2 separate regions of the Homo sapiens genome follow, and region 2 is linked to region 1. The links come from fine-mapping of genetic effects on gene expression. Tissue or cell type: whole blood. Region 1 holds a variant in brackets; the other region holds the start of a gene. All regions are shown on one strand. Distances are between the middles of the regions.

Region 1 (8,107 bases):
AGACCTAAATAAAGCCTCCAAAAAGGGTGAATCTGAACAGAACTGCAGCTGGGAGTAAACCCTATATATTACTCTGCTCAACCCATCAACTGTGTAAATATACTAATTAGCCATTTAAACAAATCTCCTGGGGTTTTCTAGGGTAATTTTATTATAAGATAAATATGTATTCTTAGCAAAGTAAAAGAAATAAAAATATTTAAAACTCTTGTGGTCATAAACATTCATTCAAATGATGACCTCAGAAGTCACAACGATATAAAGAAAGTGGCCCAAATAAAGCCCACACGTTTTCCCACACATCTATTCACTTTGCCAACCATATGATGCTTAATTCAACCACGTATTCAGTTGCTAGTCTAGACTAACAGTTCCTAGATGGTAGGGACCATGACTGCTTTATCTATTTTTCTAAGGGCCATATGAAATGGTAGCAATTAGTTTATCTGCTTGAGTCTCCAGACCTCCTCCTTGTTTTTCATCCAACTATCAGGAAACTGGGAAACTCTCAACTGGATACCAACCAAAGACATCTCTTGTATGAGGGGAGGAGCAAACACAGGATGTCTCATTTCTCTTACACTGAGACAGAGGCAGAATTAACCACTCTTGTCAACCTGACACAATTCTGCTCTGGACATCCTCAAATATCTCAAAGATGCCTAGGTGATTGTGAGAGAGTTCCCAGTGACCCTGGGCTGATGGCCAAGGATAAGGCAGGCAGGAGAGACTCAGGCTGATTCTAAATAGAAAGTGGAACTGCCACAGTGGAGCTCCAGATTACGGGTCCTAATTAGCTAGCTCTTGGGCAAAAGGAAAGAAAAAATACTCTAGTCCAGTATTACATTTTACGGGTAGGTATAATTGTGATCATGACTCTCGATACTTTGTGGCCTTCATCTCTCACCCCTAAGATGCTTGTTTACGCTTACAGAATCTGTCATCAGATTCTATTTACACCTGGATCCTCTCACATAACTGTAGCAGGTCACTGAACAAGATCTGAAAAGTTCTAAGAGCAACACTCTCAAAGGGAAGCTTTAAGATGTCTATGTTGACATCTCACAATGCAGAAAATGTCTCCTGTTGGTTTTCTGTACTTTCTCAAACCAGAGTCTGGCCCTGTCTTGTAAATTCCAGGGAGAGGCCAGACCTTATGTACAGATTCTAGGTGGGAGCAGCCTGCCTCTGCATTTTTGGGTGTTACAGCAAGTGGAGCACAACCAAAGGAGAGATCGCCTCATAGAGGCTGCTCTAGCACATTCTAAATAATATGTCTACTTGAAAGGAAAAAGCTGAAGCTACATGAATATAAGTAGAGAGTTTATTTGAGCCAAGATTGGGAATTGTAACCTGGGATCAAAGATTCATGTTGCCAGGAATCTACACTTTGATTAGCGCAGCTGCAAGTGGATTTGTAAAGGCAAAAAGAGAGGGAAAGAGGGTGGGCTGATACAAAGTTGTTTGTCAGAAACTCTCATTTGTTTACAAAAAAATAAGATTGATTATTGATTGGATAAACATTGTTAAGCTATAGGGTGTGGGTTACAGGATCCAGTGTGTCATTATTAGTTTAATTTATACCTACTTGTGGCAATAGCAAGCAGTTTCAAGAGATAAATTCTTAGCTCAAAGAACAGAGAAATACATAATTGTGGTATTATTTTAATGTCTCTGAACCTTATAACTAAAAGAATTTGCATTTCTCAGATAAAAGGTTTTATTTTTTCCCAAATCTTAAGACCCTGATTCAGAATTTGGAGCTGCAAATTTAGTTCCTGGATGGGTGCAGTAGCAGTAGGTGTCATCCACACATTTGTGGGTATTTTAAGAAGAGGAAGAAGGGGTTGGGTGTGGTGGCTCATACCTGTAACACCAGCACTTTGGGAGGCCGAGGCAGGCAGATCACCTGAGGTCATGAGTTTGAGACCAGCCTGGCCAACATGGTGAAACCCCCCCTTCCACTAAACATACAAAAATTAGCTGTACGTCTTGGTGCGTGCTTGTAATCCCAGCTACTCAGGAGGCTGAGGCAGAAGAATCATTTGAACCCAGAAGGTGGAGGTTGCAGTGAGCCGAGATCATGCCACTGCACTCCAGCCTGGGCAACAGAGTGAGAACCCATGTCAAAAAAAAAAAAAAAAAGAGGAGGAAGGGAAAAAATATGGAGATTCTCATGTCTACTTAAGGCACACGTTACTCTGGGTTTCTGGGTCCCATGATCTCTGAAGCAGTTTCTGGTCTAAAGATACAAGAGTCATTGAAAGAGGTAAAATGGTTAACTGCTGCCCTGTGAAGTATGTAGAAATCTGGCCTAGCTCTCTAGAGGTGACTGTAGAGGACTATAACACCAAATAGACAGAGACACAATTCTGCCTGCATATTTAGGGGACAGCATGCATTTTGCAGCACAATTGTGAGTTGACTGGAAGCCTGAAAGGAAAAGCCTCCTCTGGATTAAAGCTTGGTTGGCACCTTATATGTTTATATCATGTGTGGTAATTCTAGACAGTGTTTGGAAAATATAAATAAAAGAAAAATTTTCTCCAGCTCCAGAGTAACTCCACAATGATAGAACAGAAAGAAAGCTGTTTTATTACACAATTCAACCAGAATGTGACATGCATCACAGTCAATCTGCTTAAGAGATTGCAAAGACAGAAAGACGGTCACAATAATTAGTCCACAAGTAGAAAAATTTACAGCACATGTCATACATAGTTCATCATAAATTCACCTGGTAATTTGGGAGGTCATCCATATATGCTAATTGGTTATAATCAATGACAAAATACACTTTTCACATCTTCATGACAAAAGGTAATTTTGCAACTTAAAGCCAGGTGCCTCCTGCTTGCCGTCTCCTGGTAGCTTGTGTCCTCTCTTGACTCCTACCATCTGCCACTGAGGCAGAGCCCCCAGCACACAGCTCACACCTGGCACCCTATATATAACCCCAACTGCCACAGCAGCACTTCAATGCCACATCAGAGAATGAAGCCTGAGTTGCAGGAGGAGAGCCTGCAGGCCTCCTGGGTAGAATTGCACCTTCACAATAATGGGAATGGGTGCAGTGTTTAAGCCTCAGTTTTTTATTTGTAATGGTGACATGGAAATCACTCTGCTGGATTTCCAGCATGAGTCCATATAGAGATAGCT[C/T]CAAGAGTTCTCACTATGACAGCCCACCTCATTAACAGACACCATGGGATAGTAATAGGGCTTCCAAAACAGACACCCAATGCATTCAAGAGAAAAACAGCTCACTCTGAAAATGATTATATTGAGAGGGAAAAAAAAAGAAAAGCATCTTAAGAAAAAAACTCAGATTAGATATGATTGAACAAGTCAGCCAGAAAAACTTCCCCTAAAACACATTTCTCTGTAAAAACCCAAAGTGCACAGCTACCCTCAGTATGAAAAACATGAGCATTATGAATAACGGGGGGCATATTCTCAGCAGAATTTTGTAAGTGTGTGTTACAGCGTGGTCTGGATTGAAGACCCAAGCAGACTTTGTGTGAGCAACAAGGCCGTTTATTCACTTGGGTGTTAGTGGGCTGAATCGGAAAAGGGAGTCAGCCCGGAGGTGTGAGGGAGAGCAGTCTTTACAGGGCAAAGTGGCGGGTGGAAAATTACAACATGGTTTTGGGACTTGTTGACTCAAGAAGTTGATCAACCAGTTGGAACAGAAACCCGTTGTTCTTCTTTTGTGGTTTTTGGTTGTTGCAGGTTTTCTGGTTCCAGGAAGTCTGGAGGCATATGTGCTGGTCACAGAGTTCTTAATGGCCCACCGTCAATAATGGCCTGCTGGCAATAATGCAGCCATATTTGTGGGATATGACATTCCTGTCTTTTTGTTTTAATAAGAAAAGAAGTGGACGGGGTGATGTTTCTCAGGGATTCTTCGAGCGGGACTTGGGGCGGCATGGACTCCTAATTGGGAGAGAGATCTTGGGGTGGGGGTGACATTGAGGGGCAGTTAGGAGTAGCATTTGTCGCATAGATTGATTGGTAATAGCTTGAATGAGATTTTGTAGGAACTGAGAGGCTAGACGGAAGAGGCAGGGTCCAAATAGGAGAAGGAGAATGATGGAAATGAGGGGCCCAGCTATAGGGAGAAGCCACAACGCCCAGCTCCAAAGATTGGTGTTAAAAGTCTGAAAGACATTGTCTGATTTTAGAAGCCTTTTCATTTAACTGCGAGGCAGCATCTCGTACTAGTCCAGACTGGTTGGTGGAAAAACAATCTTCCCCTAAAAAGGTGCATAGCCCACCTTTTTCGACGGTTAGGAGGTCTAAGCCACGGTGGTTCTGCAGAGTTACTGCTGCTAAGGAGTCTATTTGGGATTGGAGAGTAAGGGTGGATTTTGCTATGTCTTGTAGGCTGTCTGAGAGATCCTTTGAGAGTGTATGATAGTAGGACAGGGAAGGGGACAAACCTGCTATTCCAGTTCCTGTGGCATTGGTAACTCCTAGTCCTATAAGCAAGGGTATTATCTGCACAGCCCTATGCTGATGGACTTGGGCTCTGACAGGGACTGGTAAGGTTTGGTTTCCAGGGGCAATGTCAATTTTGGGGCTTAGGAAGATTAGGGTACAGGTGCTTGTCCAGTTAGTGGTGAGGCAGACATAGGTTGAAGTTCCACACAAGAAGAATATGCCTTGGCTGGGTAGGCAGAACTGGCTGTGTATGTTAAAAAGGTGTGTGAATTTGTTTTCATTTTCCCACACCCCTAGGGTACTTGCCAAGGCGGCCCCAGTGAGCGGCTGAAAAGGGATGTTTGGGATAAGCTGAGTGGCTCCCTGTGTTTTATTTTCCCATTGGAGGAAAAATCATTTTGTATCTACTAGGAGCCACTCAGAAGGGTAATCGAAAGAGGGGATAAGGAGGCATTCGTCAGTGGTGGGAGTGCTGCTGCAGGAGGTCCAGGGGTGAATGGTCATGCAGTGCGTATGCCTGCCATTACAAAACCCGGATTGTTTGTTAAGCAGAGAGGTGCTGATGACTTCTGGGGGCTTTGAGAAGCGGACAGGCTGTTTGAATGTAGCTGTTTGGGAGACCTGGAAGTTAATACAGTCAGTTGGGGCTTGAAGCTGCAAGGCGTAGTTGCACTGATGGAACAGTAGGTGACCTAGAGGTAGGCCTGATGACAGGTTGTGTTGGATGCATAAAGGGGCTTGGAAAGTTAAGACAGCGTTTGTAGTCACAGGGCCGTGTATGGGCTTTTCATTACTTGTGTAATGGGTGAGGCTGGACATGTAGGAGCGTAAAAGTTGAACTGCACGACCTGTCAGGGTATTTTCGGTCATTTCATTGATGGAGAAGTTGGCCAATGACTGCATATGTAGGAGTTAGAAGGGGCTTTTTCCTTCATTACGAGGGTGGTAGGTTAAGCTAGTAACTACCCAGTTTTTTGTGGGAATGAGAGTGGCAACGTAAGTGGTAGCTGATAGAGAAATGCAAAGCCAGCGTCCTTTGCCAAAGAAGGGTTGGACTGGTTTAACAGAGAGTGGGTTGAGAGTTTTGTAGAGGTAATTAGGCATTACTGGAAGTGGGAGTGCGGCCATGCCAGGTAGCCAAAGGAGCAGGAGGGATAGATAAAGAGTGAGTAGGAAGGTAAACAGAGGCGTCTCATCTGGGAAGAAGTTATACAGAGTGCCCTAAAAGATGAGATCATCTATCCAGTTTAAGAGAGAATCTAAGGTGGGAGTTTGGGGATGAAACCAGGAGATGTCTTGGCAAATAGAGTGGAGGAAGAGGGTGAAGAAGCAGGGCGGACAGGAGCAGGACATTTAAGTTTCTTCAGGGATTTCGGTGAGTTTTAACGAGGTCGGGGAGAGTACTTGCGACTTCCAAGAGGAGGAAGAAGGGTCAGGCTGAGTGTCAGATGGACACAGCTTTACTCTGGAAGGGTGAATCCACTGAGGAGGATCTTGTAAGCAGACAGCCATTGGGGTACCATAAACGACCAGGAAGGGTCCTGTCCACTGAGGTTGTAGAGATCAGGGGGTTAAGCTCTTTATCAGGATGGGCTGTCTGGCCAGAGTGTCCTCATATGGCTGGGTATCTGAGGTGGGTAAAAGAAGGTTAGCAGCCTGACAGATTTCATTCCTAGCCTGTTGGAGGACTGGTGTCTGGGATGAGGTTGGGCCCCAGTAGAAAAGTACTACCATATAAGAGTTCGAATGGGCTATACCTGGTAGGTTCATGGGCGGTGGCTCAGATCCTGAGAAGCACAAGTGGTAGGAGAACAGTCCAGTCCTTTCGGAGTTGGAGGGTGAGTTTTTAAGAGGCCGTTGGCTCTTTCAACCTTTCCTGAGGAATGAGGATGGTATGGGGTGTGGAGATTCCACTGGATGCCAAGGGCCTGGGAAACTGCCTGGGTGATTTGGCTAATGAAGGCTGGACCACTGTCAGATTGGATGGAAGTAGGGAGGCCGAAACAGGTAACAATATCTGTTAGAAGAGAGGTAAAAACTGCTGCAGCCTTTTCAGATCCAGTAGGGAAGGCCTCGACCCATCTGGTGAAGGTATCAACCCAAACTAGGAGGTACTTATATTTTTTGACACGAGGCATATGAGTGAAGTCAATTTGCCAATCTTGTGTAGTAGTAAACCCTCAGGCCTGATGTGCTGGGGAAGGAGGGGGCCTAAGAAAACCTTGGAGTGGCAGACAGAACATTAAGAAGTGATTGTTTAAGGACGGACTTCCATGATGAGAAAGAAATAAGGGGCTCTAGGAGGCGAGCCAAAGGCTTGTATCCTACATGGAAGCGGTCATGGAGGGATAAGAGAATAGATTGCGCTTGTGAGGCAGGAAGAAGGAACTTTCTATGATCTAAGAACCACTTGCCTTGTGAGTTGGAAAGGACTAGCAGAGCAGGTTTTCAGAAGAAGAGTAGTAGGTAGGGATAATAGATGAGAAAGAAATATACTGGTCTTTTGGAGCAGAGACTGGAACGTCTGCAGACACTGAGGTGTTTGCCACCTCTTTTGCTGTTTTACTGGCATGGGCATTTCCTTTAGTGATAGGGTCTGTTGGTTTTTGGCATCCTCTGCAGTGGACAACTCCAGCCTTGGCTGGCAGAAGAGCAGCCTTAAGGAGGGCCTTTATGAGAAAGGCATTGATAATGGAAGACCCTTGTGTGGTTAGAAAACCTCTTTCCACCCAGATGGCAGCACTGTGATGAAGGATGTGGAAAGCATACCTGGAATCAGTATAAATATTGACGTGCATTCCCTTAGAGAGAGACAGCGTGAGTTAAAGCAATTAGTTCAGCTTGCTGAGAGGTGGTGGAGGGTGGAAGTGCAGCAGCCTCGATAACAGATGTGTGGGACACAACAAATAGCATAACCTGCCTTGGCTGGCGAAAATTGGTTGGGTCTTGAAGAACTACCATCAATAAACCAAGTGTGATCTGGGTTTGGGACTGGAAAAACAGAAATGTGAGGAGAGGGGGAGGATGCCATGTGTATTAAGGAGATGCAGTCATGTGGCTCAGGACATGTGTTGGGTGCTAAGTGAAAGGCTGGGTTGAAACTGGGTCCAAGAGCAATGGTTAGCATGGGGTTTAAAATAAAGAGTGAATAAAGCTGGAGGAGATGGGAGGAGAGTAGTTGTGTGAGGTGAGAGGAAGAAATGAGACTCTGGAGGTTGTGAGCGCTATAGAGGGTAACTGGGGTGTAACCAGTGATTTTGAGGGATTCTAGGAGTATTAGGGCAGTGGCCGCTGCAGCATGTAAACAGGGCAGCCAGCCTAGGACTGTGAGGTCAAGTTTAGATAAGTAGGCCACTGGTCGTGGGCCTGGCCCTTGTGTTAGGACCCCAACTGCACATCCCTTTACCTCTGCCATGTAGAGAGAAGGGCTGGGTGGAGTCGAGGAACGCCAGTGAGGAGGCTGTCTCAAGAGCTTTTTTCAGGGAGTGAAAGGATGAATGAGGGAAGGTTTGGGGTCTATGGGGTCAGCTAGGTTGCCTTTTGTAAGCTTATAAAGGGGTTTTGTTAAGAGGGCAAAACCAGGTACCTAGAGGTGGAAGTACCCAATGATGCCTAGGAAGGAGAGAAGCTGCTGTTTTTGAAGGGACTGGGGTCTAGGAGATTAGGT
Region 2 (8,107 bases), 370 kb after region 1:
GTATGGTCAAAGCTGATTGAGATTGAATACATCTGTTTATAATGCTTTCCTAAGGTTAGCTTTAATATTAATAATATAAAAATAAAATTTGATTTTCTACTTTTATGAAGAAGATTTACTCCAAATTTGTTGGAAGGAACCATATTAGATTTTCTTGGCCAGTACCTGTGCCACTAAATTGAAGGGTAATGTCTTTTAAAATATCTGGTCACTGCTCTCTCTACATAGCTCTGAAAAAACCCAGTACTGGACAAATTCTCTCTAACTTTTCCACAGGCATGGCCACCAATCTGTTTTAGATTAAGATTCTATTTGAAAAAAATCTGCTAATTATCTGCCTGGCTTTCAAAAAACAGCTTCATTCATTTTATTGGAAAAAAATGTTTTTGCCTTGGTGAGGTGTCACCTCCCATGAACACATGATTAAAAATATTTTTATAAGCTTAGAAAAAATTACTGATAAAACTGTTACATCCATTGCAGCTCAAAAAAAAGCTACTGATTCACTGGCTACGATTATACTAGACAATCATATTGCTTTAGGTTACATATATTACCTGAGCAAAGATATGTATGTATGGTGGGAAATATCTTTTTATTGTGTACACATAAATACTTCCTACAAAGTAGAAATTTTTTAAAAAAATGAGTTGGCCACTGTCACAAATTCTCCACCCTGCACAAGAGAGAAACTGATGTTTTCATGAATGTTTTGTAATTTACGTGTTAATCTACCACACTTTCTTGTAGAAATGTATTTATTTTTCTGCAGGCATCATGAGAGAGACATTTCCTCTGTCTTTTCCCAGGTAGCATTCCCAAAGCTAAGCCCTGGGATTCTGTTTGAAATCATGCTAAATAGAACAGACGCGGAATCTTACTACACTCACTGTGGGAAATATAAAAGGTAAATGAGAATTTTCAACCAATGGAATATAAACTATTTTTTTCTAAAATCTACCTCTTTTCTTTTAGAAAATTTTTTTTTTAATCTTTCAAGCTCTAATGATAAAATCCATTATACAATTAATGAAAAACTGAAGTTGAAATAACTGAACATATATATTGAAGGTGACAAACACAGGGAGAAGTAGTGCTGACTGGAACACAAATGTTTTAGACTCATGTGTCAATCACTTGAGAGATTCTCCCACCCCCATTCTGCTCACTAAAGTACTTGATCATCACTCTCCCAAAAGATACTGCACTTGCCCCCTGTGTGGCAGATGTGTATTTTGCTTTGCAAATTTATACACTCCCTCACTAGAGTGGATCTTTCCTGTACTTTGGGACAGTTATTCTCCTTCACAAGCCTGAGAGAAACCAGAGGGCAAGATGCATTTGTGCCTTTTCCCCTCAATATCAGCACCTGATTGGTTGACCACCAATGTGTCTGCAAGAAATGAAAACTAGGATTGAGGGGAAAAAAATCTTAATGTTAAAGCAGTTAGCTTTTTAGAGGAAGGGTGAATCAGGAAACTGCTCTCAGCACGAGGGCATCCAGCTGCTCCCCTGAGAGGCTCCACCCAATGCCTCAGGCTCTTCTCTGAAAGGAGATGACCCAGGGGCTAATGTTTGCTAGACACTCCAAGAGATATGGTCCTTGTGGGTATCTTGGATCATCCCCAGAAAGCTGTAATACTTGGACCAGGAAAACACAGGAGAGTGACTGAGGACACATCACCCTGCAAAGGATCCAAAGACATTCTGGGAAGGCGCGCGTGCCTAGAGAAGATGAGAGGAGATGCGCAGTGTCAGGTGACTACTCTTTGCTTTTCTGTCCTGTGAAATATGCACAAACAGACTAATATATTAAAAAGAGCCACCCACGGCTCTGTTAAACAAAAATAAACAAAATGCCACATCCGTTTTAAAATTAAATAAAGAACTGATAGTTCATAATGTGATTTGGAGAGGGATAGTTGGCATTTGGGAATGTGGGAAAGAAATTGGAAATTTAGAATTTTATACAGTCCCTAGAACAGTTAGGCTGGGAGAACAGTTTTAGATTTGAGACCCTGCTTGCCAAACATTTGAAAAATGCAGAGAAAACCAACGACCCTGTGGAGCATTAAAATAATTAAATAGCTAGCAATTAGGCTGAAGTGGCCATGGTGCCCTGGGATTCTGCCTAAGGAAACCTAACTACGTCGAAGGAATTTCTGGTAAATTATTAACTTTGAGAAACAACAACAACAACAACAAAACAACTTAGGCTTAACCAACCACAAGCTGCCAATAAAAAGCTCTAATTACATAACCAGGACATTTCCACCGGAGGGCTGCAAATGCAATACGTAACTGTAACCAATCAAATATTGAATCTGGTTTGCTTCCTCATACCTCTTAAAAAAAAAAAACAACCTTTTGTTCCAAGACCCTCCTTTGAGCCCCCAAACAACAAATCATAGCTGGGTGTTCTCTGATTGATAAATTACTGTTTGTGCAAGTAAACTATTTGTATTAATCGCTTCTGGCATTACTATAAATACCTCAGACTGGGTAATTTATAAGAGGATTAATTGGCTCATGGTTCCACAGGCTGCATAGAAAGCATAACACCAGCGTCTGCTTCTGGGGAGGCCCCACCCAGAAAGCTTAAAATCATGGATGAAGGTGAAGCAAGAGCTTGAAAAAGAGGCAAGGTGGGGTGCTGTACACTTCTAAATGATGAACTTCAGGGAACTCACTCACTATTGAGAGGACAATACCAAGAGGAATGGTGCTAAACTATTCGTGAGAAATCCGGGCCCACAATCCTTCCACCAGGCCCCACCTCCAACATGGGGGATTACATTTAAATAGGAGATTTGGGCTGGAAAACACATCCAAATTATATCCTAAAGTTGCCTCAATTTAGGCTAGGGTGGTGGGTCATGCACGTAATCCCGGCACTTTAGGAGGCCCGAGGCGGGCGGATCACCTGAGACCTGAGCTCGGGGAGTTCGAGACCAGCCTGAGCAACATGGCAAAAGCCTGTCTCTACAAAAACAAACAAAACAAAATAGGCGTGGTGGCGCACCCCTCTAGTCCTAGCTACTTGGGGGGCTGGGGTGAGAGGATCATCTGAGCCCAGTAGGTGGAGGCTGCAGTGAACCGAAATGCACTTTAGCCTGGGCAACAGAGTGAGACACTGTCTCAAAAATAAATAAATTTAAAAAAGGGCCATGATTTTATTTTTAAAAGGAGAAAGGAGGGACTAGGGACCCCACGGCCCACTGCTTCTTCCACGGAGGAACTCCAGACCCTAAATGAGAATTCCCGTCTTATGACACTCCCAACACCCCCACACAATCTGGAGGAGGGAGACTCGAGGTTGCGGCACAGAGCTGCCCAGGAAGGGATCTGAGCTGGGGAGAAATTCGAGTTTAGGGACAAAACAAGACGTAGCGTTTTGGCTGCTGGCTCAGCCCCTAATCTGCGATGGAGGGAAATGAGGATTGAGCTGTGCCCGCGGGGACTCGGGGATGCAGACTCCAGAGCAGACCGCGAGAAGGCCCAGATACCACCGCAGCCGGTTCCGGCCGGATTCAAACAGCCTCTTCCCCATTCTCGGGACACCCACTCCACGCACTCACCATTTCCCAGCCTCCAGATGTTCCGCCGTCCTCCCTATGGATCTCCCAGTACCTGCAGGTCACAGGATAACAGAAGCTATAGTAGAGTCACCGAGGAACTCCAGGAACGGAGGAGATGGAACAGTGGAGACGCGAACTAGGATCAGAGCCCGGAAGCTAGGAGACAAAGGCCCCGCCATATTGAAGAGGCCGCCTCTTCCTCTGTAGCTGCGCACTTGATTGGACAGTTTCACGCTGGCGCCACTGATTGGCTAGGGCTCCAGGCCCCACCCGTTTCAATCCTAAGTGACAGAAGATGTAATCAGACACTGGGCTGAATGAGGCAAGGGTGACAGGTTTTTGCCTGCAGCGTTTTCAGGCGAGTCCTCCCTGTGCTGGGGGCCTGGCCCTGCCTGAGAGACATTTGTATTTAACCTTGCATATAAGATTATATCACTTTCTGATTATATTTTCGTGTGTGTGTATATATTACATTCTGAATTATAGTTATGTGTATGCTGCAGGCCCTGTCTCAGCATCCTGTCTTTCCCTTTAGCTGCAGGAGATCAAAGTCCTCCAGGAGATGCAGCTGCTTCAGCTGGCTGTAGACAATTATCACCTTCAGTCTGTGAAGCAATTTTGGGTCTGCTTCCAATTAATGGAGTGTCTCAGTGAGACTGAGAGGTGAGGGCCTAGCAGATTGGTTAGAGGTGCCACTCGCCCAGGCCTCCCAAAACACCCTGTCTCTTTCCCACCAAAGCTGAGCCTGCCTGAGGACCTAAACAAGCATGGAGAACCAAGATGGGACCCTAGTCAGGGATAGTGCTGGGCTGTGGGGTAAAGTCAGCTAGGTCAGGGCCTCCAGGTGTGGGGAGGAGCCGGCCTCTTCTGTAGAGCCCTGGGCAAGTCACTGCCCTCTTTGGGCCTCTGTTTTCTTATCTAAAAAATGTAGGGATGATGAGCCTCACAGGGTAATGAGGAGCTTCAAAGGAGAAAAATTTGAGAGTGCTTGTGCCTGGCTCTTCCTGAGAGAGATGATGATGAGAACAATGGTGACGGCTACATATAACTGAGTCCTCACGAGGCCCAGTGAGGTAGGTGTGGTTCCCATCACACTTTCAAGTTGAGAAACAGTCTCAGGGAGGCCTGGCTGCATGCCCAAGGTTCCACACACAGTGAGTGTTGCAGCAGGGAGTGAATCTAGAATCAGAGTTTACTGGAGGTGGCAGGAGCACTGGACCAGCTTGACTCACACCAGTTATCCAGGGTACCAGGTCAATGTAACTGGGCATAACTGGGTGAAGGGAGCATAATATCACTGACCTTGTCCTTGACCCTGGCAGAGGAAGACACCCAAGTTGGCCACCCTAGAGAAGAAACCACAGAAAGCCCAGATGAGGCTAAAGCAGCAAAAAGGCAGGTACCTGTGATGGGGAAGAGCTCCAGGGATTCAGAGGGAAGAGCTCCTCCCTCCCAGCTGGAGGCCTCCACATCAAAAGAGCAAGGGGCCTTTCTCCCTCAGCCCTTCCCTCCTGTGGCAACAGTCCCTGAAATGCCTCTATAAGAGAAATCAGAGTAAAGGCCTGGAAGAGCTGGGCTGAGTGGATTTGGGAAACGGTGGAGCTAGGGACCACATAACATTGTGACTTGTTAAAATCTCACCACAGAGTTAATAAGGGAGTGCTTCATGTTTTTGGAGGCCAGCTAGGAAGAGGGGAGAGAGTTGGAGAGAGGCAGCTGCGTGTCTTTGGCTTTTTCAAGTAAAAGATGTGGATAGGAGAGTCCAGGAGATGGGGGCTTATGAGATTTCAGGGACAGGCCTTGAATGGACACCCAAAAGTGGATACTCATCCCCATCACCACCTGATAGCACAGGGTGTTGCTGACTTTCACCTCCCCACTCTCTCCCAATGTTGCCCCAGCTGCTCACCTTCCTTTTCTTTCTGGGTGTTACATTTCCCTAGAAGTCAGCCAATGGTCATCAGAAAGGCCCCTTGGACCCTGACTAGGTCCCCTCCCCACACTCTTCATACTGCATTACTGCCAGGGCCACCAGGGGCAGGGGATGTGCACAAAGCAGGACTTGGGTCTGCAGCAGGTTCTGGGGTTCAAAGGGGACAATGGGAGCTGAGGCTCAGGGACCTCCCACCCCAACTCTCTTTGATGACAGACATAAAAACTGAGGGCTCCCATTTAAAAAAGTGCTCAGCCAGGCCAGGCACGGTGGCTCACACCTGTAATCCCAGTACTTTGGGAGGCTGAGGATGGTGGATCACCAGGTCAGGAGTTCAAGACCAGCCTGGCCAAGATGGCAAAACCCCGTCTCTACTAAAAATACAAGAATTAGCTGGGCGTGGTTGTGGGCACCTGTAATCCCAGCTACTAAGGAGGCTGAGGCAGAGAATTGCTTGAACCTGGGAGGCGGAGTTTGCAGTGAGCCAAGATCATGCCACTGCACTCCAGCCTGGGTGACAGAGGAGGCTCCATCTCAAAAAAAACCAAAAAACAAAAAACAAAAGTGCTCAGCCACATACGAGCTGCCTGCCCTTGGAGAGGCCTAAGTTTACTATCCTTCCATTGGCACCATCTGAGGGAGAGTCTGAGTCCAGCTCAGGCAAAACCTCACTGGGCTTTGCAAGCAGACAGCTCTGCAGCTTCATCACTCAGGGAACAGGGACTGGTGGCTGGTGTGGAATCTTCAACATTCATAGGGAAGAGGGGCCTGATACCTCAGCTCACAGAGGCAGCCGTGACGCTCTCATGAGAGGAAGTTTGCCAAGTGCTGAGATCTAAGGGTGTAGTCCTGATTCTCTTCTCCCAAGCCTCAGGATTCTGGTTCCAGCCCTGCCCATCCCAGGCTCACTCCCATCCATATAATCCTTTCTGGCAGGGTTTCCCATCACCAGATAACTGGAAAATGTGTCCAGGATGGAGGCAACACCCTGTGCTGTCGGGTGGTGATGGGGATGACTACTCACTTTTGGGTGTCCCTTCGAGGCCTGTCCCCTGAAATCTCATAATCCCCTGTCTCCTGGACCCTCCTATCCGCATCTTCCACTTGTCCCCCCCTTTAGCTGCAGGAGATCAAAGTTCTCCAGGAGATGCAGCTGCTTCAGCTGGCTGTAGACAATTATCACCTTCAGCCTGTGGAGCAATTTTGGGTCTGCCTCCAGTTAACGGAGTGGCTCAGTGAGACTGAGAGGTGAGGGTCCAGCAGATCGGCAGAGGTTATGGAGAATATTTATTTTGGGCCAGCTGCCAAGAGCCTGTGGCCATGGCTCCCTGGTCAGTGTCAGGCCCTGCTGCATGGTGACCCCGGGGGCCCAGCACTCCAGCTGGGCAGGCACTGGGAAGGAGACTAGGGGTGTGACTCCTACATAGAGACCTCACATCTGCCTCTATGACTTGTAGCTACAACCTGTCCTGCCAGCTGGATCGCTTATCCCAGTAGGCCAGCAACTCCTTAAGGCCATGGAGAACATGCCATGATGAATCTTAGGGGACACTGCCTGGACCAGCAGGAGCGAAGTGCCTTAGGGCTCAGTGACATTTGGGTTAGGCATGGGATCCGGGTGTCAGACAGCTACACTGGGCTTCCAGCTCCACCACTGACCAGCCCTGTGCCTGGGGCAGAGGACTCACTGCTATGGTACTTGAGGCCCCATTGTCATAAATACAATGCACACTGCCAATTCCTTTTTCTCATTTATCTGTTTATTTATAATCAACAGGTACTACTGATCTCTGTTGGTGTTTTTATTGAAAATTAATAAGCATGTGATACATTTTTTATCATTCTTCCTCATGATTTCTTTACTATATGATTCTTCTCATATGTGGTACTTAAGAGTAGTTAAAGTCATAGAAAACACCAAGTAGGAGAGTGTTTCCCAGGGGCTACAGGGAGAATAAGGAGTTGTTTAATGGGTACAGTTTCAGTTTCAAAAAATGGAATATGCTTTTTATATATGGAAATGATGGTAGCAAAATAATGAGTGTACTTAATTCATCTCAATGGAAACCTTTAAAATGGTTAAAATAGTTAATTTTATGTGTATTTTAACATAATGTATAAAATTATTTTAAATTTTTATATTATTTTTTAAGAGACAGAGTCTTGCTCTGTTACCCAGATGGGAGTGCAGGAGTGCAATCATTGCTTCCTGTAGCCTTGAACTTATGGGCTCAACTGATCTTTCTGCCTCAGTCTTCTGAGTAGCTGGAATAGCAGACACATGCCACCGTGCCTGGCTAATTTTTAATTTTTTTGTAGAGAGAGGGTCTCACTCTATTGCCCAGGCTGGTCTAAAATTCCCAGCCACAAGTGATCCTCCCACCTTAACCTCCTAAAATATTTTAGGCTGAGCACGTTGGCTCATGCCTGTAATCTCAGTACTTACATATCTACAGCAGGATTGATGAATATTACAAATATGATGTACAAAAGAAAGTATATGTAAAAGTATACATACTATATAATGTCATTTATGTAAAATCCAAAAAGAATATAAAATTGAGGTTTTGGCTTTCAGTAATAGTGGAGTAGCTTG

Evidence for each region. PIP is the estimated chance that this variant, and not a neighbour inherited with it, causes the effect.
Region 2: it holds the start of ZNF736, and the variant in region 1 is fine-mapped to the expression of ZNF736 in whole blood (TOPMed, PIP above 0.99). The same link has a PIP of 0.9 or more in adrenal gland, aorta, atrial appendage, cerebellar hemisphere, esophagus mucosa and esophagus muscle.

Annotation. Positions count from the first base shown.
Region 1 is chr7:64,682,296-64,690,402 of GRCh38, reverse strand. All of the region lies in intron 1 of ZNF107 (zinc finger protein 107), which reads right to left. It also overlaps the pseudogene BNIP3P11. Among named protein-coding and RNA genes, the nearest start is that of MIR6839, 7.3 kb to the right of the region's middle. The variant C/T (reference allele first, on the strand shown) is at 3,160.
Region 2 is chr7:64,309,625-64,317,731 of GRCh38, reverse strand. It overlaps ZNF736 (zinc finger protein 736), which reads right to left and starts at 3,771. Exons shown (of 4, transcript NM_001170905.3): 1 at 3,579-3,771. The coding sequence starts at 3,581. LOC105375322 (a long non-coding RNA gene) reads left to right here and starts at 7,256. Exons shown (of 5, transcript XR_927582.2): 1 at 7,256-8,107. RefSeq lists an enhancer at 3,539-3,718.